Homo sapiens: one gene and its partners. The protein of the gene in region 2 purifies or fractionates together with the protein of the main gene of each other region. This does not show direct contact. Each region holds a gene or a part of one and is shown on either strand. Other genes may lie near its edges. The genes, in order: SEPTIN11, SLC32A1, DLAT, DHX36, ERICH5, NSUN2 and PLEKHA5.

What was found.
Region 1: the proteins of SLC32A1 (region 2) and SEPTIN11 purify together in Homo sapiens (affinity purification with mass spectrometry; one large-scale study listed by BioGRID and IntAct). This does not show direct contact.
Region 3: the proteins of SLC32A1 (region 2) and DLAT purify together in Homo sapiens (affinity purification with mass spectrometry; one large-scale study listed by BioGRID and IntAct). This does not show direct contact.
Region 4: the proteins of SLC32A1 (region 2) and DHX36 purify together in Homo sapiens (affinity purification with mass spectrometry; one large-scale study listed by BioGRID and IntAct). This does not show direct contact.
Region 5: the proteins of SLC32A1 (region 2) and ERICH5 purify together in Homo sapiens (affinity purification with mass spectrometry; one large-scale study listed by BioGRID and IntAct). This does not show direct contact.
Region 6: the proteins of SLC32A1 (region 2) and NSUN2 purify together in Homo sapiens (affinity purification with mass spectrometry; one large-scale study listed by BioGRID and IntAct). This does not show direct contact.
Region 7: the proteins of SLC32A1 (region 2) and PLEKHA5 purify together in Homo sapiens (affinity purification with mass spectrometry; one large-scale study listed by BioGRID and IntAct). This does not show direct contact.

The regions. Positions count from the first base shown.
Region 1 is NC_000004.12:77,029,752-77,033,251, reverse strand, and holds part of SEPTIN11 (septin-11), read right to left. Parts: intron 2,470-3,500; coding exon 2,282-2,469; intron 1-2,281. UniProt on the Homo sapiens protein: Filament-forming cytoskeletal GTPase. May play a role in cytokinesis. May play a role in the cytoarchitecture of neurons, including dendritic arborization and dendritic spines, and in GABAergic synaptic connectivity.
Region 2 is NC_000020.11:38,723,131-38,727,285, forward strand, and holds the start of SLC32A1 (vesicular inhibitory amino acid transporter), read left to right. Parts: upstream 1-1,355; 5' UTR 1,356-1,594; coding exon 1,595-1,984; intron 1,985-4,155. UniProt on the Homo sapiens protein: Antiporter that exchanges vesicular protons for cytosolic 4-aminobutanoate or to a lesser extend glycine, thus allowing their secretion from nerve terminals. The transport is equally dependent on the chemical and electrical components of the proton gradient.
Region 3 is NC_000011.10:112,035,408-112,038,907, reverse strand, and holds part of DLAT (dihydrolipoyllysine-residue acetyltransferase component of pyruvate dehydrogenase complex, mitochondrial isoform 2 precursor), read right to left. Parts: intron 1,636-3,500; coding exon 1,448-1,635; intron 1-1,447.
Region 4 is NC_000003.12:154,300,488-154,303,987, forward strand, and holds part of DHX36 (ATP-dependent DNA/RNA helicase DHX36), read right to left. Parts: intron 2,924-3,500; coding exon 2,842-2,923; intron 641-2,841; coding exon 500-640; intron 210-499; coding exon 107-209; intron 1-106.
Region 5 is NC_000008.11:98,067,568-98,071,067, forward strand, and holds part of ERICH5 (glutamate-rich protein 5), read left to right. Parts: intron 1-3,500.
Region 6 is NC_000005.10:6,619,545-6,623,044, forward strand, and holds part of NSUN2 (RNA cytosine C(5)-methyltransferase NSUN2), read right to left. Parts: intron 2,557-3,500; coding exon 2,472-2,556; intron 755-2,471; coding exon 562-754; intron 1-561. UniProt on the Homo sapiens protein: RNA cytosine C(5)-methyltransferase that methylates cytosine to 5-methylcytosine (m5C) in various RNAs, such as tRNAs, mRNAs and some long non-coding RNAs (lncRNAs).
Region 7 is NC_000012.12:19,356,733-19,360,232, reverse strand, and holds part of PLEKHA5 (pleckstrin homology domain-containing family A member 5), read right to left. Parts: intron 2,006-3,500; coding exon 1,796-2,005; intron 822-1,795; coding exon 687-821; intron 1-686.

The DNA of each region.
Region 1 (3,500 bases), on a different chromosome or scaffold from region 2:
TGCTCTGTCTAGCCTGGCCACTGTCTTTCTGCGGTCCCTCTAACCAAAACACTCCACTACCACTGGCAGTAAGAGGTGTGATTTTTTTTTTTCTTGGACATTTCAGGCCTCCACTGGCAGTTGCTTTCACTGTACAAATGTAAAGTGTGGAAAAGGGTAAGGACCTAGAAAAAGTTATACAAAAAATATGTGCCATTGTCAGGTGCAAAACCTGGCGACTACTCTGAACCAAATTAAGTATAATATCCTTCAAAATAAATGAGAATATATAAATAAGCTAAAATAGAATCCACACAGGCTTCATAGAAACTTTGAAAGCATTACACATTGGTAAGGCCCCAGGATAGGAAGAAAATAACCTAACATGTTCAAAAGGGCAAGGAAAAACCTCCCTACACTGGGAAGTTTGTTACTAAATAAACTTTTCTAAAATGGAAGCACAATAATGATCAGCTCTTGGAATTTTTATTGCTTAAAGGCACGTCTAGTATACACGAAATACTCTTTTAACATTGCTGGTCTTTTGGAAACATTCTTAGTTTTAAAACTTGAACCTTTATGCACTGAGTGCCTCAGGGTGAAAAGAAAAACTTGACTTTGCATTTCCTAAGCTGTAAGTCAGCAGCTTTTTGTCTCATTCATACCTATAGATGTATGTGTACACACACACAAACACACACACACAGACACATACACACCCCTATATCCTTGGTTAGTTTAGCTTGGATTAACAAAGGTACAATGCCCAATGGCTTTCATCTGTCTTCACTGGAAGAGTCACTGTAATCTGAGTCTCTGCATGGGAAACATCACCATTAGTGTTAGATGCTCTCCCGACATGCATAGCTACAAAGGGTTTTCTTAGATTATAATCTATGTGCTTGTTACTCTCAGAATTAATCCAGCATAACTAAATTTTGGGCCTTGAACTCCTTTGGTCACTTGGATCTGTGCCAACTCCAAATAAAATCACAACCATTTCAATTATTGTTCAGAACATTTGCCTCCTCCCTTGCTCTGGTGATACATTTTCTGCTGTCTCAGAGCTCAGAATGTCAGTTTGTAAAGCATGATTTAAAACTCTCTCAGTATGTCATTGTAGCAGTCCATTTTTATTTTTACTGCAGGCAACATGAGATTCCTTAGGGGTGAGCCTACTGCACATTCACCAAGACTAAGTGGACAATAGCACTGTGCTCACTTTTCCCTATAACACATCTCAATTATTGTGCAGAGACTTGATCCTATGTACTCTATGTTTAAAGAATGTAATTCTTTATGTGCTTGAGCATCAATGTTTTTACATATGGTCAGCTTTTTCCCTAGAACCTTGGCATGTAAGGCGAAAGAGCAACACTTCCTGAAACAAGTTCTGAGTTGCTTTATATTAAATAGCTGCCCTAAAGCACCGTACATTAGACAAAGGAGGGTGGCATCTGCATATTTGTCATTGAGACACCACAAAGGTTTTCGTTAGTGGTATTCTTACCATCGTGCTTCCTGTCAAAACCGATAGCATTGACATAAAACTAGGCTTTATGATGATTCAAAGGAGAGCTTCAAATCACAGGAGAATGTCAAGGGAGGCCTAAATCTCCCACTGGTTTCAGGCAGCTGCTACTGGAGTATCACAGGAAGTGACCAACTCAAGAGCAGAATCTGACCCTTTGGCACATGACATTAAGACCCTATTTAAAAAAAACCTTTTATGAATGGGTTTAGGTTTGGCTTGAGGTTGGCAGAGGTGTCAACTGGATAGGCATTTGGATCCCATTTCACAATAAAACAATTCATCATATTGAATTTTGAGGAAACTAGTGGCCACTAGCAGCTCTTCCAAATGTTTCATTTTGGGAACGAGAATTTCAGTGACTGGCTTACGAAGTCTTACAACACAGAATAGGAAAATAATTTTAACAATTGTGATTTTAGGATGCTCTCTATCAAGAGTCATGAGAATTGTCTTCAGAGGGTGCTGAAGAGACATCAACCTGTCTTCTTTGAGACTCCTAGTGTTGGTGTGGAAGATGCTACTGGAGACAACAGGTTCCTCCAGGCCTGATTGCTTGGTCAATTGTGGTAAAGTTTTATAAATTAATCTTTGTGTACCTTTTAAAAAAATTTAAAAACCTTCATCATCTTCCCTGCACTGTAGAGAAAATACTTGCTTTTATCTTTCTGGTAAAGGACCAGTTTCCAGTCTGTAAATGGGAAAAGTAGAGACATGCAAGAGGAATAAATTGTTAGAGGTCCCCGATACAGGGGGGTGACACCTGCTTACTTTTTCTTATCCTTGTCTTTCTTGGTTTGCTGGGCCCCAGATTGCTGGGCCTGGGACTGTAGTAACTGAGCCGCTGCTTTCTTCTTCTGGAAGTTGTTCACCTCCTCCTCAAGCTCCTTCTTCTTGTCTTCCACTTTCTTCTTTTCTTCTTGGTGTGTCCGCTTTAGAAGGTCAAACTTCTCGTGAAGCTGGAGAGAAAAAGAAAACAGGCTTGGTGAATGGAATGAAAATCCTTTTGATGTAAAGTTCTTTGGATCTGTTCAAAAAACAAAACATGGCCAGGCACGGTGGCTCACGCCTGTAATTTCAGCACTTTGGGAGGCCGAGGTGGGTGGATCACGAGGTCAGGAGTTCAAGACCAGCCTGGCCAAGATGGTGAAACCCCATCTCTACTAAAAATACAAAAATTAGCCAGGCGTGGTGGCGGGTGCCTGTAATCCCTGCTACTCAAGAGGCTGAGGCAGAGAATTGCTTGAACCTGGGAGGCGGAGGTTGCAGTGAGCTGAGATCGTACCACTGCACTCCAGCCTGGGTGACAGAGACTCCGTCTCAAAAGAAAATAAAAGAAAACAAACAAATATGTGTCATGTGGCTGCACTGGCTTTAATACAGGTGTAAAGTACCATTTTGCTGACTTCCTGGAGGAGCTGAGCTGGGATGCTGAAGAGCATCCCTCAGAGTCCCAGACTCCTGTGACACTAGAACTCCTTGGGACTAAAAATTCCTTCGCTCTGTTGCCCAGGCTGGAGAGTAGTGACACAATCTCAGCTCACTGCAACCTCTGTCTCCTGGGTTCAAGCAATTCTCCTGCTTCAGCCTCTCGAGTAGCTGGGATTATGGGCATGCGCCACCACACCCAGCTAATTTTTGTATCTTTAGTAGAGACGGGGTTTCACCATTTGCCCAGGCTGGTCTCGAACTCCTGACCTCGTGATCCTCCCACCTTGGCATCCCAAGGTGCTGGGATTACAGGCGTGAACCACTGCACCTGGCCAAAAATAATTATGATCCCAACAAAAAACTCACCCTAGTGGTAAAAGTGGTTCTTTACCTCTGGTCCTTTTTCGAAATGTATAAAAAACATTTACTTAGAAATATATACAATGACTACATATATGTATGTGTTTGTATATATATACACATATATATGTGTATGTATATATGTGTGTATATGTGTGTGTATATATATGTGTGTGTGTGTGTATATATATATATATGC
Region 2 (4,155 bases):
GGAGGAGCCCGGCCAGGACATCAGCTGGGGACTTACGCAGGGACCCATTCAGAGCAGCGGACCCTCACGGAGACTACTACAAAGGGACTAACACAGGCACGAACGCAGGCAACCCCATTCGGGAACACATACGTAATCCAACACACTAGCTCTGGCACACACACTGGAATGCGCGCAAAACCACACAGACACAGAACACACGCGGTTACCAAACCTCATTCTCAGAGGCCACACTGATCCAACCTCAAGCAGAGTCTGATACAGCATCGGTCTTTGTCTCTGGGTCTCTCCCTTACTCGCGCTCACACACCCGTACCCCAATCAACACAAACAGCCCAAGCTTTCACAGCCTGGAGGCGGCCGTCGGAGCAGGGCCCCAGCGCACCGCGAGCCTCTGCTTCCTCCGCCTTGCAGCGCCGCGAGCCCTTCTTTCCTCCGCGCCTGGCCCCGTCTGCGCCCCTCTCGGCGTGGGCATTCGCAGACCCGCTAGGAGGCTGACGAGAGGTGTCCTCATAGAGTCCTGCCTTCTTCCAGACCCCCAAACGAAAAGAAAGAGAAAAGCCAACCTTTCGCCTCCATTCTGCACGCATTTGGAGAGCGGCTGGTGGCGAGCGATCCGCACAATCGCTTCCCTCGCGGCGTCCCTGGACGGGCGGAGAGAACCCGGGTGACTGAGCCTGAGGCTGAGCTTCCTTGGGAGCGATCCATGCCAGCCACTTCTACCTTCAAGGGGGACTCGCGGCCGGGTTTACGCGCGAAGGATGGGTGCCAGGGAAACTGACTTATAGACGACCCGCTCCGCGAGAGACTGACAACTCAGTCCTGCGGGCTTTCGGGGCGCCCAGACCAGTCCTTAGCCAGAGGATCTGGGGCTGCACAGCTCCCGGACCCTGGAGGGGGTGGTCCGGGGGTGGGAGACTGCGAGCATCAGCCCACGCCGGCCCCCTCCCACCCTGCGGCGGCGAGGTGGGAAGGGCCAGGATGCGAGCTTAGCACCTCCCCTAGAAATGCAGCACTTCGCCCCCCCACCTCCCCTGCCCTCGGCGCTCCCTCTTTCACGCGCTCCCTCCCGCCTCCTTCCCAAGGGCGCCCTTCTTCTGCCCCCAGCTCACGTCTGAATCCCTCGGCGCCCCCTTTCTCTTCTCCTAGCCCCTTCCTCACGTCCCCTGCCTCCGGGTATTTCCTCTCTCCAATCCCCCACCCCCGCACCGCCTGATTCCGAGGGGCGGGAGCGCATTGGGCTGCGCACGGGTGGGGGCGCCGCGCCAGCTTCGCGTAGCTGCTCTGACGCCGCTGCCGCCGCCGCCGCCGCCGCCGCCCTCCGCAGCCCAGCTCGCGCCCCGCGGCAGCTCCGCAGTGCACTAGCCACCACCGCCGCCGCCGCCGCTCCGCCAGACCTGCTGCCAGCTTGCCCGGTCCAGCCCTGAGAGAGCCTCGAACGCCAGCTGCGAGGGTCATGAGCCAGAGAGCCCCGGGGCGCCGCGCGGAGAGCAAGCGGAGATAGCGACTTTGCGCCCCCCAGCCCTCGCCTTCTTGCATCGCGTTCCCCGCATCCTCGGGTCCTTCTGTCCTTTCCGCTGTCCCCACCGCCGCCATGGCCACCTTGCTCCGCAGCAAGCTGTCCAACGTGGCCACGTCCGTGTCCAACAAGTCCCAGGCCAAGATGAGCGGCATGTTCGCCAGGATGGGTTTTCAGGCGGCCACGGATGAGGAGGCGGTGGGCTTCGCGCATTGCGACGACCTCGACTTTGAGCACCGCCAGGGCCTGCAGATGGACATCCTGAAAGCCGAGGGAGAGCCCTGCGGGGACGAGGGCGCTGAAGCGCCCGTCGAGGGAGACATCCATTATCAGCGAGGCAGCGGAGCTCCTCTGCCGCCCTCCGGCTCCAAGGACCAGGTGGGAGGTGGTGGCGAATTCGGGGGCCACGACAAGCCCAAAATCACGGCGTGGGAGGCAGGCTGGAACGTGACCAACGCCATCCAGGTAAGCGCGGGATTCCCAGTTCTGCCTGTCCTCCCCCCTCCCAGCTCAGCGTGCCGGGCTCTGCCCCCGACAGTCGCCCGGTGATCTCGGCCTGGAGACCCCCTCCTGTACCCAGGAATCTCCCTTTCTCCATCCCTCCCAGCCCTGCGCGGGGACCTACGCCCCCAGGCGGTGTTTTCCGCCCTAACCCACGCTCCCTCCCAACGGCACCAGCTGCAAGACCGCTAGGCTGAAGTTCGGTCTGAGACACCTGTCCGGAGACACTGCAAAAGTGAAGGAAATGGGGGGAGGGAGCAGGAAGCGATGAGAAAGAAAGAAAATCAGGATTGGAGGGCACGGTTTGGTCTTGGACTCTGGAACGGATTCACAGCTGCATTTTTGGGAGGAAAGAAGAAGGGGAAATCGCTGAGGTCGGAGTCTCCTCCCCCCGCACACACGCATAGACACGCACACGTATATAGGCAGGCACACCACATGCCCACAGCCCCCCTTCCCACGAACAAAGGCGCAGGCACAGGCGCACACGACATGTATCTATATATAGACCACAGTACTATCCCCAAATGCACCTGCGTACACCCCTACAGCTCCACAAACAAAAGCATATACCTGCACATACCAAACACACGAATATTCGTTTGAACATATGCACACACACATGCACAGATGCATGCAGACAGGAACCAGCCTGCTCCCTTGGGTGCGGCCCTGTTGGAGACATACAGGTATACACACACGAAAGCACACACATGCTCCCACACAAACACATTTAGTCCGCAATAATCCAGCATTACCTGTGCACAGACTCGCCCCTCTCGCCCGAAATCCCGGCTGCACCGCAAAGAGGCGGCCAGCTCCTCCCCGTGTGACCCTGGCGAAGCCCTCTCCAGAGGCTAAGAATGGCCCCTGCTCTCTAGGCCCTCTCCCCTTATTCCTAACCCCCCACTCCCCACCAGGCGGCGCAGGACTCCTACATAGGGAGCAGGTTTGGAGTCTTGGCAACGACCTCCGAGCTAGCAGGGGCTGGCAGGCCGCAGCTTTCTGGGCCGAAGGAGACTTCAGCTCTAGGCAACCCCGGTCCCTTACAGCTTGGCCCCGCGGCGTCCCTGGAGCGCACTATCACTGGGGCCACGGAAGGCAGGTTTTCTGGGAGCAGAGGCCTCCCAGGGGTTGTTCCATGTATCGGGGTAAGCAGGACTCCACCGGGCCCCGAACACCAGATGGCCCGACCCAAGGCGCTTTCCGCTCCGGGGCCCGGCGAGACGGCCTTGCTGGATCACGGACCCGGGGCTGCTCCCGCCTTCGCTGTGCCCCGCGACTTCCCGGGGCGTCTTTCAAGGCTCCGTTTGATAGGCCCCAAGGGAGGCCAGGGCAGGAGGCTGGAGGCTCGTAGGCCTCCGGGACCCTGGATTTCGTTAGCTCTTAGTCCCCGTGTGGATTCTAAACCCTACAGCCCTGTCCGCCTGACCCTGAAGCTTCTGGTTCTAGACTCTTGCTCGGTTCGGCTTTCTGGCCTCCCTGGCGCCTTCCCGCCAAGCTCCTCCTCCTGCTTGCCTCCCCAGCCTCCACTTAGTCCCCTTCCTTAGGTCTCGCCCTCGCCTCACTCTAACTCCAGCCTTGTCCTAAGACTCTCAATTTCCAGCCCTGCTTCCTCCTCCCCGCGCGCTGCTCCCCAAGCGTCTTCACATTGTCTCTGTTCTTGCCTCCCAGGGGCTTTGCCCCACCTTCAGCCCCTCTCCCTCTCTACCCTATTTCCTTTTCGCCTCACAACTGCAGCCTTTAACGTTTCCTCCTCTGGTCTGAGCCTGAGACGCCCGAGTTTTCCTCTTTAGCTCCCGTGCCCCATTCCAGCCCCACCACAAATCCCGTGCCCACTCTTTCCACTGGCCCAGGCCCAGCTCACTACCTTTCTTAGAGCCCCTTTCCGACTACGCTCCCTTCTGTCCCTTCTCATCTCCTCCCCCAACTCCTCATTCTGTTCCTGTCCCCAGAAACCATCCCGAAGTATCTCCCTTCCCTCCTGTGGCTTCTCCCTATTCTCAGCCCTCTCCCACCCTAGCCCTCTCGCTATCACCAGCCATTAGCGCACCTTTCCTTCTCAGATCCGTCCATACATCCCTCCCTCTCCATCTCTGGCTCGACACCCGGGCTCACTATTAGTTCCCCTACAT
Region 3 (3,500 bases), on a different chromosome or scaffold from region 2:
CATCACCAACATGATTTTTATTTTTAATTATCCTAACTTCTTTTTTTTTTTTCTTTTTATTTGAGACAGAGTCTTGCTCTGTCACCCAGGCTGGAGTGCAGTGGCGCAAACTTGGCTCACTGCAACCTCCGCCTCCTGGGTTCAAGCAATTCTCCTGCCTCAGCCTCCCAAGTAGCTGGGATTAAAGGCACGCACCACCACGCCCAGCTAATTTTTTGTATTTTCAGTAGAGATGGGGTTTCACCATGTTGGCCAGGCTGGTCTTGAACTCCTGACCTCAAGCGATCCACCTGCCTCAGCCTCCCAAAGTGCTGGGATTACTGGCATGAGCCACCACACCCAGCCAGCTAATTTCAAAATATAAAATTATGCTGTAAGGCCCCATGTTGAAAAGTATCTTAAGAAATACGGCCAGGTGTGGTGGCTCACACCTGTAATCCCAGCACTTTGGGAGGCCGAGGTGGGTGGATCACCTGAGGTCAGGAGTTCGTGACCAGCCTGGCCAACACGGTGAAACCCCTTCTCTACTAAAAATAAAAAAATTAGCCGGGCATGGTGGCTAACACCTGTAATCCCAGCTACTCGGGAGGTCGAGGCAGGAGAATTGCTTGAACCCGGGAGGCATAGGCTGCAGTGAGCCAAGATCACGCCACTGCACGCCAGCCTGGGTGACGGAGCAAGACTCCGTCTCAACAACAACAACAAAAGAAATCCAACAACAATGCTACTTGCCAGCTTCCCACAAATGTACAGTAGTCAGAAATCAACTTTTCTCTTATAGAAATGTTTACCTAGTTTAAACTCACATGATTCTAGCATCTGTGAGAATCACTGAAGCTTCACTGTCAGTGTTATCTCTGGTTGGAGTTATACAAGTTCAGGTTATAGTTATATAGTGTATCAAGTATTTGGTGATATAATAAATTCTAGGCAAAACAAGTCATGTCAAGGTTCCACTGTATCACAAATATATGCTTGACCTACTAAGTCAATAACAAGAGGATTTCAAGTGACAGAGATTATTCAGTATATTTAATAATAAATGGGCAATGAAGTGAGCTATGATTGCACCACTGCACTCCAGCCTCAGCAACAGGGTGAGACCTTGTCTCTTAAAAAAAAAAAAAAAGGGTGGGGCAATGAAGCCTTACTTTCCACAAGCATGGTATCTGTATCTAAAGCAGAAAGAGAACATGTCACTCAGCTTTGTTCTCAGCAGGACTCTAGATAGCAGGAAGAAAAAAGCTACAAGGCCCAAACTATCAACCATTAGGTGAACAGTGCAGTACAACAAACACTATAGGTCTCCACAAATGTTAATAAACTATCTCCCTCCTCAGTCATAGAATCTTGGAGGTGGAAGGAACCTAGGATATCATCTAATCAAAACTCCTTAATTTAGAGATGAACAAGGTAAGTGTTTCCTGAATTCTAGAAGCATACCTACCGGGGGTGGGGTAGGTGGTGGCACTTGTGGTTTTAAATCTGTTACTTCGGTTGGCCTATAGTCAGCAAATGCTGATATATCTGCCTCTTTTTCTACAATGATACAGAGTGGGGTTCCTAGAGGGACATCTCTTGTGCCTTCAGGGACCAGGATTTTTGCCAGATAACCTTCTTCCTGTACTTCAAAACCTTAAATAGAAAGAAAAAACATTATGGGACTTAAGAGATTCCACTATCCCTCCAAACTCACAGCACAGTTTTAAGTAAAGTGATTTTTCTCATTCAAGCTAGCTATATAGCCTTTTTTGCAACCTATTTAACCTTCTGTGTCTTGGTTTCTTTACCTACAATACGGGGATAATAATAGTACCAATCTCACTGGATTGGTACTGGGATGTTATACATTTAAACAGATTAATATTTTTCAAGTTCTTAGAAATAATACAACCTGGTACAAAGTAAATGCCAAATAAAAATCTGTTCAATAAAACTATGAAAGATTACAGACAGTGGTTAGTTCTCAAAGTTATTAAAAAATCTCCAAGGACAGTCCCCATGCAGACTCACAGGACTCTAAGATGGTGTCAGCTATGCTGCTAAAGATAAGAACCACATACATGCCTAATTAAGGGAGCTACCAACCTAGATACTAATGTTGGATTTCAGCCCTAAAAGCATCTTTGGAACTTTTCAAAGAGGTTATACTTGATATTATACCAAGTATTTCAATGTAAAGAATTACAGCTTTACTGGGATTTCTATGGTGTTGACAACTTATATTTTATTCAACTACTGCCTTCCTTGCAAAGAACTTAAACATTTAGGATTGCAAAAGTAAAACTAAAAGAAGCCATTGGCTTTCTGTACTGTTGTGCCTCTCCTTGATGAACACATCTTTGATGAATCCTTCCATTTCCCAGCTGAGAATACCCAATAAAAAATATGTTTAGGCTGGGCGCGGCGGCTCATGCCTGTAATCCCAGCACTTTGGGAGACCGAGGCGGGTGGATCACCTGAGGTCGGGAGTTCGAGACCAGCCTGACCAACGTGGAGAAACCCCGTCTCTACTAAAAATACAAAATTAGCCAGGCATGGTGGCGCATGCCTGTAATCCCAGCTACTCGGGAGGCTGAGGCAAGAAAATCACTTGAACCCAGGAGGTGGAGGTTGTGGTGAGCCGAGATCGTGCCATTGCACTCCAGCCTGGGCAACAAGAGCGAAACTCCGTCTCAAAAAAAAAAAAAAAAAAAAAAAAAAAAACACACACACACACACACACACACACACACACACATATATACACACACATATATATATATACACACACATATATATATGTTTAAGTCTGGAGATATATATATATATGTTTAAGGCTGGGCACGGTGGCTCACGCCTGTTATCCCAGCACTTTGGGAGGCCAAGGTAGGTGGATTACCTGAGGTCAGGAGTTCAAGACCAGCCTGGCCAACATGGTGAAACCCCATCTCCACTAAAAATACAAAAATTAGCCAGGCATGGTGGCAGGCGCCTGTAATCCCAGCTACTTGGGCAGCTGAGGCAGGAGAATTGCTTGAACCCGGGAGGTGGAAATTGCAGTGAGCCAAGATCATGCCATTGCACTCCAGCCTGGGCGACAAAGCAAGACTCTATCTCAAAAAAAAAAAAAAAAAAGGCTGGGTGCGGTGGTGGCTCACGCCTGTAATCCCAGCACTTTGGGAGGCACAAGGCAGTCAGATCACGAGGTCAGGAGTTCAAGACCAGCCTGGCCCACATAGTGAAACCACATTTCTACTAAAAATACAAAAATTAGCCGGGCGTAGTGGCATGCACCTGTAGTCCCAGCTACTCAGGAGGCTCAGGCAGGAGAATCGCTTGAACCCAGGAGGCAGAGGTTGTGGTGGGCCGAGATCACGCCACCGCACTCCAGCCTGGACAACAGAGCCAGACTCTGTTTCCAAAAAAAAAAAAAAGAAGTGTTTAAAATGAAAAGGCTCCTGGGCCACAATAGACTTCAAAGTTCAACCAAGGTAACACTTCTCTAGTGACTAGTCTCT
Region 4 (3,500 bases), on a different chromosome or scaffold from region 2:
CTTCCAGTCTATTTCATAAGCATTTAAGAAAACTGTATTTTTCATGGCCTTGATACGTTAATAAAATTAAAATTATGTTAACTGAAGAAAGAAAAATAAAACTAACCTCTTCTTCCAAAACAATGTATCGGATGAGGGCAACAATCAAATTCAGATCAACTTTATCATCCTCCATCATTTCTATAACATCTACAGTACTTGCAGAATACCTATCAAAGTTAAACACAAAGTCATGAAATACTTAATCAAGTTTTCTGTTAACTTGCTACAAAAGCTTAAAATTAACTCAATCTGCAAATGGAGGAACATAATCTACAGATCGGAGAGAATTACTGGGGTAATTACTGCTTAAAAGTCAAATCAGCACAATATTTAGCTCGAATAAGAGACTCACAATGCTCTCCTTTAAGTACGTACAGATTCAAGAAGATGCCCCCAGCCTCTGGCTTTTTGTTTTATTTAGCCACTGATTTCTCACCTTCAGACAAAATAAACTTACCTTCTTCGCAGTTCCCTTACATAATCTGGCCAACGTTCTTTATATATTGCTTCTTTTTCTTCTTTTTCTTGTCTATTTACATGCCCTTGCATGAAACCCCTCTTAAACTGGGATCTGTGTTCTTTTTGTTCTGGAACATACCTAAAATAAAAACATTCTTGAATATCTTCACTTTTTTGAAACTCTAGTTTTAGCTAAAATCTGTGACATTTTATATTTAGGATTTTCAAAAAGGATTCCAAAGAACATTTTCATTATGCTTTCAAGTGAATGCTAGCTAAAATATCAGTTTGTGTTCATTAACTTATAAAACCTGATATTTTGGATAAAAATCATTCTTCTTTATTGAAGTATATAAACCTATAGATCATTTTTAGTCAAAAATTTAGAAAAAGACTAAAGTAAGTAACTTTTACCTTCTATTTTAAGTTTGCTTTAGAACAAAAGTTAATATTAATGTTAAGTCCAAACCTGACTGCACGTAAGAATTGAATCCCTCAGAGAGCTTGTAAAATACAGACTCCTAAATCCCATCCCTGATGATTTGGATTTGGTAGGTATGCCTTGGGTCTGTTAATCTAAGAATTTTAATTAGTGCCTGCAGGAGATTCAGATAGTGTATCCAGATCTACAGACCCACGCTAGAGAACTATTTAATTCTGCTCAGTCACACAGTTGTAGTTAATGGCAGATCCAGAATCAGTATTCAAGTCTCTCATATGTCAATTGAGTGCTGTACTATGATTCTACTACCATCCTGTAGTGATTGCTAAAACCATAGAGGGCGCATCTGGACAATAATTCTACCTATCATTGTCAGTCCTGAGAGGCACGAGGTGGGAAAAGACAAAAATGAACCCACACTTTAACCCCAAGGCATCTCTGAGCTCAACTAGAGGACAGCATCTAGATGGAATGGGGGAGGGGCTGGAGCATGGACTCCCAAGTCAGAATATCCCTCCTCTGCTACTGACTAGCTGTGTAACCTTAGACAAGGCATTAAACATCTGGCCTTTAGTTATCTTATTTGAGAGATTAATGTTTGTAACAGTACTGGCATGAGATTTTTAAAAATGTGATAAAGTAAAAAAAAAAAAAAAAGTGATAAAGCCTCATGTATAGCACAAAGAGTGCTTCCCTAAGAGTGAAGAACATAGTACCAAAAGAGGAACTATTGTATTAGCACAGGAGAGATAGTAAGGACCTTAGCAAAGAAATAAAAATGAGAAAGCATGTTCAAGAAGAAAGTTCCCAGAGTTTGTGTGTGTTTGAAGGCAGTACAAAATGACTTGGATTAACTTGGTTACTCACTGTGTAAAACAGTTGCCATACCCTGGTACATAACTGCCTGATACACACTAACTTTTTGATTTATAGGTCAGAAAACTAAGTGGAGGATAATTATTAACCATTATAAAGTATGCTGGGCAAGACACATTGTTTTATTTTTTTGGTGGGAGAATATAAGATAATGATTTAGGCTTGAGAAATGTTAGGTTCAAGGCATCTGTGGTACTAGAATACTATTGAGCAGAAAGCCAGTTCGAAGGTCAGGAGAAGCTTCAGTTCTGAAGCTACACTACTGAAAGCTGTGAAAATACAGAACTACAGTTAGGGATATAAACAGGTTTGCACAGTGAAAACATAAATGATTGAGAAGACTGGGGGAAATTATATTTAAAGGTTCGGCAATGGAAGCCAACAAAGGAAAGTGAAAATCAGGCAGGAGAACCAGCAAAAGGGTTCAAACACTAAAGACAAAGGTTCCCAAACTTTGCTGCCCAGGAATCTTCAAAAAACACTGACACCAGCCAGGCGTGGTGGCTCACACCTGTAATACCAGGACTTTGGGATGCTGAGGCAGGCAAATCACTTGAGGTCAGGAGTTTGAGACCAGCCTGGCCAACACGGTGAAACTAGTTTCTACTAAAAATACAAAAATTAGCTGGGCATGGTGGCACACACCTGTAATCCTAGTTACTTGGGAGGCTGAGGTGGGAGAATCACTTCAACCTGGAAGGCGGAGGTTGCCGTGAGCGGAGATAGCTCCACTGCACTCTAGGCTAGGCGACAGAGAGAGACTCTGTCTCAATTAAAAAAAACCACGGATGCCTGGCTACTACCTCAGACACTGTAATGTAATTTAGGTAGGGAGTATAAATCAGGCATCTGGATTTTAAAAAGCTCCAGGCAATTTTAATGTGCAGCCAAGTGTGGCTAATTCCCAGAAAAATGTTTTACAAGGAAATAGTCAATGATGGGTTTCTGAGACTAAAGTTTGACATGAGAAAAGTGATATATTAGTACTTTTTAATGTTTTTTATTTCCTAATGTTTACTTACCTTATTTTTTCAATTACATCTTCCAAAAGATATTCCACAACCGGAAAGGTAAAACCAGGTATATGTATCATTGGACAGTTACCTATTACGGCAGACAAAATATAAGCATAAATTTGTACTCAAATGTTAAAAACATTAATATACTGTAAATAGGACAATGACTCTATTACTTACTATTAATTCCAGAAAATGGTCCTGTAGCTTTTACAATTCTACCCTACTTTTCCACACCTACTTTAATAAAAAACAGCAGTCTAGTCTTCACTCAATACCATTTTACTGCTACCAAACTGTACACACATCTCACAGTTCTACAAAATAACACAGAATATCAAAGAATAGAGTTTTAAGTTGAACTCAAAATCCATTAGTTAGAAGTCTATTTTCTCTTCATCATTAACCCAGATGGTGCCATAATAGAATATCCAGAATATCAAAGTTTTACTGAATTCTAGATAAGCATTACTACTTGTAGCACCCGGAATTAGCGGAGAAAGGTAATCAAAACAAAACCTAAACAAATAGATTGTTACTATTTCAAAATTACTAATAAAAAAATCACTTCGGTACTGTTATTTAAATGCTCTTTACATTTCATAACAAGCGAAACAAGCAGTACACACTGTAAAAAGCAAACATCACATCAGAGGTCAAAATAC
Region 5 (3,500 bases), on a different chromosome or scaffold from region 2:
TCTAAAAACAATGAAATCAATACAATACAATCAACAAATTATACTATGTATCTTTTTTTTTTTTTGAGACGGCATTTCGCTCTTGTTGCCCAGGCTGGAGTGCAATGGCATGATCTCGGCTCACTGCAACCTCGGCCTCCTGGGTTCAAGTGATTCTACTGCCTCAGCTTCCCGAGTAGCTGGGATTACAGGCATGTGCCACCACACTCGGCTAATTTTGTATTTTTAGTAGAGACAGGGTTTCTCCATGTTGGTCGAACTCCCGCCCTCAGGTGATCCACCCGCCTCAGCCTCCCAAAGTACTGGGATTATAGGCATGAGCCACCACGCGTGGCCTATACTATATATATTATTTAGGGATAGAATAATCCCTTATTATGATTCTAAATATTAGTCTAATCCCTAAATAAGATATATAGTATAATGTGTTATACAAATATTATATATTTATTTTATTTTTTATTTAAAAAATTGAGACAGGGTCTTGCTATGTTGCCCAGGCTGGTCTTGAACTTCCAAGCTCAAGTGATCCTCCCACCTCGGCCTCCCAAAGTGCTGGGATTACAGGTATGAGCCACTGTGCCCAGCCTATGTTATAAATTTAAATCAGACAGCAGCTACTAGTAGGTAGACATTAGGTTGCACAGGAATAATCTATTCTACTGATTATGTGGGGACATTTGCCCTGACCCATTAGACACTGAATCTCACGGAGCTGCTTCCTATCACCTCCCAAGATGACTGACCAGATAGGTGTGTGTGTTTGGGAGAACAGAGGTGAAGACTCTGATTGTTAACAATTATTAGTGCTCCTCACAGCGTAGAACAGTGCCTAATATGTGGTAGTCACACATCGATTTTTATGACGTGCCCTGAAATGTGTGAGGAAAGAGACTTTTCATTCCAAAGGATAATTAGACAGATTGAGTTTGGAATTTCTTGTGTTTTTGGAAGCAAGTTTTAAATATTAGGACAATTTCTGTTGTTTTGAGTGTCCTGAGGATCCGATGCAATCTGAACACAAAGGTTTTATTGACTCCACAGACCTTAATGTGCCTGAAGGTGTCTATAGACGTTCACATCCAAACCCTCCTCCCAGTGTTCCTAGCCCTCTGCTAACATGGATAATCACTGCTCGAATCTTTCCTAATATAAATGGGATCTGTTTTGGCAGACTTCTTTCCAAGGTGTTACAGCCCAAGCACCAAACATGGACAAAGTAAATAGGTGGTAATTATTGACAAGTTCATTGCTAGGTTAATGTGTACATTTCCACTGACAGCTATAATCATTTGTTTGTTCTAACCTGAACTTTCACTAGCTGCTTGCTGTCCATGCGGCCTAGGCAATCAGATGAAGCTTGAATTTCACAGTTATGTGAATTGTTCTTTGTACTGCAGTCATACCTTCAGTTTTCACCCAATATTTCACACTCTGACATCTAGTTAGGTCATCTGGTCCTAACTAGACAAAAGTTTTCCTTTTGAATTGAAGAACAAACATCATAAACATTAAATTTAATTTGTATAGGCTTTTCTTGCATATAGAAATTATATAAATGGGATTTTTTTTCTTTCAAATGTGTGCCTTGTGTCATTTCTGGAGCCTGGCACTTAAATAGCATTTGGTATGTCTTTGTGATAGGCCTGGCGATTGCATATGGCTAATTGAAATGGAATAAAAAAACTACATACATGGTTCAAAAATGTGAAAATATTTGGAAAAGGCAGGTCTGAAAAGTATACCTTCCACCCCATCCTCATCATCTATTTAGTTCGAATCACACCTGTGAATACACACTTATTATTTTAGGGTTTTTTTTTTTATATATTCTTTTGAAGTTTATTTATGCATTGCAAATATTATTTCCTTCTCTCATCTTTATTTATAAAATGTAGTGTACTATACCCACCGTTCCTCACTTTGTTTTTTTCACCTAACACTATGGAGATTTTTCCACATTTATATGCAGAGAACTTCTTTCTCCTTTTTTATACCTGCATAATAATATGTTCCTTGATTTATTTAACCAGCCCCCCTATTGAGGGACATTTAATTTGTTTACAGTCTTTCCCTGTTGCAGACAAGACTGCCATGAATTCCTTTGTGCCTACATCATTTTGAATGTGTGCAAGTATATCTGTAGGACAGTTTCCCAGGAGTGGCATTACTAGGTCAAAGGGTGTACGCACTGAAAGTTTTGATAGATAACTGCCTAAATGTGTTCTGTAAGACTTGAAGCAGTTTACACTGTCATCAACAATAAAGTAAATCTTTTTCTAAAACAGAAAACTTTCAGACATTTGTGCAGCCACATCGAAACATACACATGGGACAGAAGTCAGGAGATAAGGAGGGAGCATGCACTTGGTTTCAGGTGCTTTAGTTTGTGATCTTATTTAATCCTCACAATAGCCTTAAAACACAAACATTAATTGCACCAAATACAGCTAGAAAACGAAGCTTAATACAGATAAGTCACTTGCCCTGGTCTCAGAGCTAGTAGGTCTAGTAAGCCTACTTACTAGATGGATGGATGGACCTGGGGCACATGGCTAATGTGTGTGACTCCAAAGCCCCTGTTCTTTTCACAACTTCCAGTTCCATCTGGGATCTGGTCCTAGTTCTGCAAGAAACTTGTAGTGTGGCCTTACACATAGAACATATGCAATCAGCTGAGTGTGGACGCTCGAGCCTGTAATCCCAGCTACTTGGGAGGCCGTAGTGGGAGAATCAGGAGGTCAAGCACCACTGTACTCCAGCCTGGGCAACACAGTGAGACTTCTCTCTAAAGAAAAGAAAAAAGAGGCCGGGCGCAGTGGCTTACCCCTGTAATCCCAGCACTTTGGGAGGCTAAGGTGGGCAGATCACCTGAGGTTGGGAGTTCGAGACCAGCCTGACCAACATGGAGAAACCCCATCTCTACTAAAAATACAAAAAATTAGCCAGGTGTGGTGGCTAATTTTTTACTGGTATGCTGATGCCTGTAATCCCAGCTACTCTGGAGGCTGAGGCAGGAGAATCGCTTGAACCAGTGAGCCAAGATCGCGCCATTGCACTCCAGCCTGGGCAACAAGAGTGAAACTGCATCTCAAAAAAAAAAAAAAAAAAAAAAGAAAAGAAAAGAAAAAGAAAAGAGAATGAAAGAAAAGAAAAAAAAGCAAGCAATAACTGTTGAGTAGATGGATGGGTGAATGGGTGATTGACAGAGACGGGGATTCAGGGAGGTAAGAGTATTACTCAGAAAAGCAGAGGAGGAATCAGAACCTAATGAATACCAGAAACTGAAAGGTAATATTGGCCAAGATGGGCTTAGAAAGAGTGTCGGGTTGTGTATAGAGCCTCCTAGCTATGCAGGAAAAGGTTAGCACTGTAAAACAACGCTTGATTGTCTGCCATTAAATCATGCTTCTGGGCTGAGTGCAGTGGCTCATGCCTGTAATCCCAGCACTGTGGGAGGCCGAGGCAGGTGGATCACCTGAGGTCAGGAGTTCAAGACC
Region 6 (3,500 bases), on a different chromosome or scaffold from region 2:
AGTATTATTTTATATCTAAACTCTAAATATCTAAAATGTTGATGTATTATCTCAAGAAAGGTATAAAAACACAAGCAAAATGAATTTCTTAAGGGCTTGAACTCCGAAATTTCTTTCATTCAACTAAATAACATAAAATCCAATGTGATTACGTATTATTTTATGACAAAGTTTTTTATATACTGTACTCACTGGAAGAACTAATACAAAATAGTTGGGGTGCACAAATTGTTCCAAGCAATAACATCCTAAAACACACCACAATAAGAGTCTACGATTCTATTTTCCTCTTACGTATTTTCTCTGTTTTGTTTTGTTTTCTCTTTATCTTTCTGCAGGCTATTGCAACCACCCCTTTCTGTTCTTTATCCAGCATCTGCTGTGCTGCTTCTCATTAAGACGTATCTACGTGTCCATCTTTTGGTTTAGGCTCACGCTATCTTTCTCCGCACCCCAAGACTTATGTACAATTGTGTCATATTCATGCACAACTTCATTTTAGTCTCTATTTGACTTGATTTCTTTAGTGGATTTGGGCTTTTTGGCCAATAAGATAAATACCTGCAAGGGACATCACATAAAATTCGATCATAGAAGAGGATCTCTTTCCTGCCGTCCACATCTATCTGGAGCCTGGGTATGCTGGAGGCATCATGGTTGACCACCATGATGCAGGGGCTGCTCAGCCTCTTGGCTTGATGGACGAGCAGGTAGCAGCGCTTGTTGTCCACATCATTCGCAATAACAAATCCCTCTGAAGGCACAGAATTGCAGTGTCAGGTGAAATGGAGCCTAAGTGGAATCACATCCTGAAATATGCGACCTCCAAAGGTCAGCCAGTGAGAAGCAGCAATCCACCAAACTTAAGACCCACAGTCAAGGTTTTCCAGAATTACGTTAAGTGGTTCAAAAAAAGGAACCAGGTGGCTCTGGATGGATTTTATGGACACTCGAATTTTGAAAGCCTCAAAAGTCATCTATTCAACAATTATTCACTTTGTGCCAATTACCATGCCAAAAATGTCTTTTCTGTTATTAGTAACGATTAACTACAAAAAAAAAAGATGAGGAGAAAGGTGTAGAAACAACAAAATCACCTTACAAATGTTTCAAAATCCTGAACACAAGCCGGGACCCTGCTCTGACTGTGAGTCAGGCTCCTAGGGTGGGGCCCCAAGCACCTGAACACGGAAGCTCTTCCCGGGAGGCTCTGCAGGCTGGGAAGTCTACTGGGTGTACCTCTGCTCATCTCTGGTTCTTCTCACACCCCCAGCAAAAAGGCAAATATACCAACAACATGTATGATCAAAGCCACTCTTCACAACAGTATGAAATGCAAAACATCCACAATACAAAAAGGAGAACCTGCTGCTACTGGGACGCCAAGGCTCTTTACTGCCAATGTGGAGAAAACAACTAAAAACAGGGAAAAGTGAAGCAGGCTTTTTAGCCAAGGCATTATCTTTAAACAATGTAAAAAAGAGGATTTCAAAAAACAGACCTAACAAATATGCCTATTAAAACAGAACTAGAGAAGTTTGCCTGAACAAAGATAGGACGAGATGAAAGCTGACTCTAAAACATCACGATGGGTATTTGTTTCCACTTAAGAGAAAGGGGCGTGGTGTCACTATAACAGCTAACATTTCCTGAGCACCTCGCAAGCTACATACTGATTCGTCCCATTTCACATGGGATGTCTAACACTGTAAGTAACTTGCCGATTAGGATTTGAACCCAGGGAGTCTGATGGTAGCTTTTAACTACACACTACTACCCTTCATGTAAGGCAGTAAGTAATAATAATAATAATAATAGTAATAATAATGAACAAAGGTGGGGGAAAGGGGAAATTGTTACTAAAAATTCAAACAGTGAAATCTATCTTCTGTAAGTAGGCTTGATAAAGAAACACCATCTGCAGCCGGGCGTGGTGGCTCACACCTGTAATCCCAGCACTTTGGGAGGCCAAGGCGGGCGGATCACGAGGTCAGGAGATCGAGACCATCCTGGCTAACATGGTGAAACCCCGTCTCTACTAAAAATACAAAAAATTACCCGGGCATGGTGGCGGGCACCTGTAGTCCCAGCTACTCGAGAGGCTGAGGCAGGAGAATGGCGTGAACCCAGGAGGTGGAACTTGCAGTGAGCCAACATCACGCCACTGCACTCCAGCCTGGGCAACAGAGTGAGACTCCATCTCAAAAAAAAAAAAAAGAAATGCCATTCGTTTTTATAGAAAACACACATAATTCTAAAATAAAGCTCCCCCATGGTATGAGTGTGTTTGTTTGAGTACTACTGACGGTGGTAGGCAAGATGTCCAGTTCTACTTCCGGTAGACGGAAAACCCAACTGCTTGTCATAGGAGACTTTAGAGCCAAATTAGCAGGCAAAGTTAGAGTCTTTTCCTTGTCTACAATCTGCCAAAGTGGCATTCCTACCATTTTGAACACAAGTCCAATGCATACCTGGAAAGGGGACATTCATGTCGGCATGTAGCATTTCAATTAACTGTGTGGTCTTTGAGCCAGGTGCTGCACACATATCTAAGATCTATTAACAAAGCAAGAAACTGTTTCATGTTTTTAAAAAACCAAATATTCTACATTTAATTTAAAGCAATTCTAGTTTTTCAATTTCTAGTCCAAGATCTAAATATACTTCTTTACAGAGTCTATAGCATGACATAATTTACTTTTAGGGATTCTACACTGCCCCAAAATCACAGAATGATATAGGTACAGTCTCCAAAGAGGATGGGAGGAGAATGAAACTGTAAGCCAGAGAGACTAAATATAGAGATGAACAAGTAAGAATCATGAAAACATAATGCTAAGGAACAGAGCTACCTAGACTCAAATCTCAGCTCAGCCAGTTAACAGCTCCGTAACCTCAGTTCAAGTACTTCTCCTTGCTTCCTTTTCCTCATCTGGAAAAATGGAGATGGTGACAGTATCTGCCCTTAGAGGGTTGTGTGAATGATAAAGCCAACTAATTCACCTAAAAAACACAGAGCAAGGCCAGGCACAGTGGCTCACACCTGTAATCCCAGCACTTTGGAAGGCCAAGGCAGGCGGATCGCCTGAGGTCGGGAGTTCGAGACCAGCCTGACCAACATGGAGAAACCCCGTCTCTACTAAAAATACAAAATTAGCAGGGTGTGGTGGTGCGCACCTGTAATCCCGGCTACTTGGGAGACTGAGGCAGGAGAATTGCCTGAACTCAGGAGGCGGAGGTTGCAGTGAGCCAAGATCGCGCCACTGCACTCCAGCCTGGACAACAAGAGTGAAACTCCATCTCAAAAAAAAAAAAAAGAAAAGAAAAAAGAGCACAGAGTAATGCTTGCCATACAATGAGCTCTCAATACATGTTCACTATCATTTTCAACCTAATTTAGCCAATCACCATCACTGAAGACAATCCATATGGTAAACAAATCAGTAAAACTAAAGGGGAGAAAATTTTCTAAACCATAAAAATTAAGTAGGACAAAAAAG
Region 7 (3,500 bases), on a different chromosome or scaffold from region 2:
GCTTCCCCAGTAGCAGTTGGGACTACAGGTGCATGCCACCACACCTGGCTAATTTTTGTATTCAGTATTGGCAGGGTTTCACCATGTTGCCCAGGCTGGTCTCAAACTTCTGGGCTCAAGTGATCCGCCTGCCTCAGCTTCTCAAAGTGCTGGGATTACACACACCAGCCACCGTGCCCAGTCAATTAATGCATATCTTGATGTGGCTGAATACATCAATCAAACTAAAGAAAGCTTAATTTTTCCTTTTTCTTTTTTTTTTTGAGATGGAGTCTCCCTCCCTCTGTCGCCCAGGCTGGAGTGTAGTGGCGCGATCTCGGCTCACTGCAAGCTCCGCCTCCCAGATTCACGCCATTCTCCTGCCTCAGCCTCCCCAGTAGCTGGGACTACAGGAGCCTGCCACCAAGCCCGGCTAATTTTTTTTTGCATTTTTAGTAGAGACGGGGTTTTACCGTGTTAGCCAGGATGGTCTCGATCTCCTGACCTCGTGATTCGCCTGCCTCAGCCTCCCAAAGTGCTGGGATTACAGACGTGAGCCACCGCGCCCGGCCAGAAAGCTTATTTTTTCATTTAGCTCTATGGACTCTGTGACTGAAAGAAACACACTTTATTTTCAACCTTACCACTTGATTTAATCTTCACAAATCTATTCCTTTGGAATACCTTTCATAAAATAATCTCGCTACCTCTTTGCTGAAGTCCACATTTTGGGGTTCGGTTTCTTTTAGTTGAACAATTTCTGTTGCAGGAGTTTCATGGTCTGGCTTTACATCATTTTCTCTAATGGCAGTGTCCAGTTCCTTATCATCCCTCCTTCGAGTCTGCTCAAAAGACATATAGCATTTTTATACTCATACTGTGCATGCATGTATATTTTATAAATAGTGCCTGTTAATTCTCAAAATAGAACAAAGCTGGATCTCCACTCATGAAGAAGTTTTCCTATGAAAACTAACAAAGAAAATTTATATATATAGCACTATTCCACACATTTTTCTCAACTCTTTTAAAAAAAACCATTCATTTTGTAATTTGCAGAATGTGCCACAATTCAAACTGTTGCTTTGTTTAGTCTCCATTAGCAATGCCTGCACTTGATTCGGTGGAAAGAGGGGATATTCATTAGGACAGGAAAGCATGTTCAGCTGATGCATTCAGTTTATGCCATTATAGACAAACTTTTAAGATACTATTGCTAGGTGACAAGTGTCTACAAACAGGGAAAGACCAGACAGAAGCTACTGAACAGGTTGGCTAGGCTGCTGTCTCTGAATTTATAAAGAGGGGCAAAAAACAAAAAGAAACAAAATGGCATCACTTTATAAGCCTGAAGTTGAGAGGTGATGGACAGCACACTTGGAACTTTATTTAGAAGCTCTCTCCTGCTACAATTTAGGTCATGTTAAATCAGGACACAGAGCAATACATATTTTATTGAGAGGGGAATTGGGGACTATCTTGGTAACCTGCATAGCATTTTACATTTGTTGAAAACCCTTTTATTTTCTTAGTGTCTCTAAGGAGTCTGGGCAGCTGTATCATCACTGTAAAGTTGAAGACATTAAGTCCACAACTAGTCCACGGGCATCCAACATGTAGTTTAGCTCTGGTCTCTTGAACTCAGGGTTATTTACATTTTACTTAGCTGTCTTAGCTTATTATTAGGAGAATTAAATAATATAAAATAAGTATCCATACTGCAGACCTTTTAAGACCTATCAATCATGTAACTCTGATTCCAAAATTCAGTGATACTAGATTTACACAAAATAATAATCAAATGCAATTCATATACCTGAGTAGTCCTAAATGGATTATCCCTTAAATTTGAAGGGCTTTGTAAGGGTGACTGGTCTGAAGCACCGATAACATTTAACCCTTTTTTCTTCTCCCTCAGGCACGCTTGTTGATGTCTTCTTATTCTTTCCATTTGCTCTTCCACAGTCATCCTTGGTCGAGTACTTTCAGCCAAACAGAGCTGTTCCACTGCACTTCTTGGTCTTTCCTTCAATGTAAAAATGAACATATCAATACATAAATGAAAACTTCTGAAAAGTATGATGGAATAAAAAATGTTGTAAAGTGCATTTATTTATTTTGTTTTCAAAATCACAAGAAGAGGTTTTGAATGTCATTTAGATATCACCAGAAAGGCACATGAAATTGCTATTTGATCCTTAACTAGTAATTGGTGATGTATGCTCAATAACAGAAAGAAAAAGAGACGATATTATAAGGGAGGAGAGAGAAAAGAGGAATAGAAAATATTTTTTTGGCTTAAAAAAAAAATATGGACCAGGAGTGGTGGCTCACACCTATAATCCCAGCACTTTGGGACCCTGAGGTGGGTGGATTACTTGAGCCCAGGAGTTTGAGACCAGCCTGGGCAACATGGTAAAAACCCGTCTCTACCAAAAATACAAAAATTAGCCAGGCAGGTGTGGTGGTATATGCCTATAGTCCCAGCTACTTGGGAGGCTGAGGTAGGAGGATGGTTTGAGCCCAGGAGGTGGAGGTTGCAGCGAGCTGAGATCGTGCTACTGCACTCCAGCATGCAGATGACATGACAGAGCCAGATGCCATCTCAAACAAACAAACAAACAAACAAACAAACCCCCATAACTCAGTTCCAGTAAATCTGGGTAAAACAAAAAACACCATCACCACCACCATAAAAGGGCAGGGCAGGCTGGGTGCAGTGGCTCACGCCTATAATCCCAGTACTTTGGGAGGCTGAGGCAGGTGGATCACTTGAGATCAGGAGTTCAAGACCAGCCTGGCCAACATGGCGAAACCCTGTCTCTATAAAAGTACAAAAAATTTAGCCAGGCATGGTGGCTCATGCCAGTAGTCCCAGCTACTCGGGAGGCTGAGGTGGGAGAATTGCTTGAACCCAGGAGGCAGAGGTTGTAGTGAACTGAGATTGTGCCAACCTGGGCAATGAGTGAGAGTCTGTCTCAAAAAAAAAAAAAAAAAAAGAATATAAAGAATATGGCAGCTCTGGAGCAAGCCAGTCCCATGACCCTGAAATAGAAAATTGCATAAAACTTGACCCTGAAAGAGAAAACTGAATAAAACTCAAATGAGGAGAAAAGCAGGGGCACAGTGTCTAAATATTAGAGATTTCTTTTATTTTGATGAAAACGTAATGTTTTAAGTTATACATTTACCGTGAAAAGACTAATAAAACAAACACCTCTATTTTCTTTCTCATCAGTAATAAAACTACGAAAACACTTATTTTCTATAAATCAGTCATATTTGAAAATGCTTAGGCCGGGCGCGGTGGCTCACACCTGTAATCCCAACACTTTGGAAGGCCGAGGCAGGCAGATCACGAGGTCAGGAGTTAGAGACCAGCCTGGCCAACATGGTGAAACCCTGTGTCTACTAAAAATACAGAAATTAGCTGGGCATGATGGCGGGCGCCTGTAGGCCCAGCTACTCGGGAGGCCGAGGCAGGAGAATCATTTGAACCCGGGAGGCAGAGGTTGCAATGA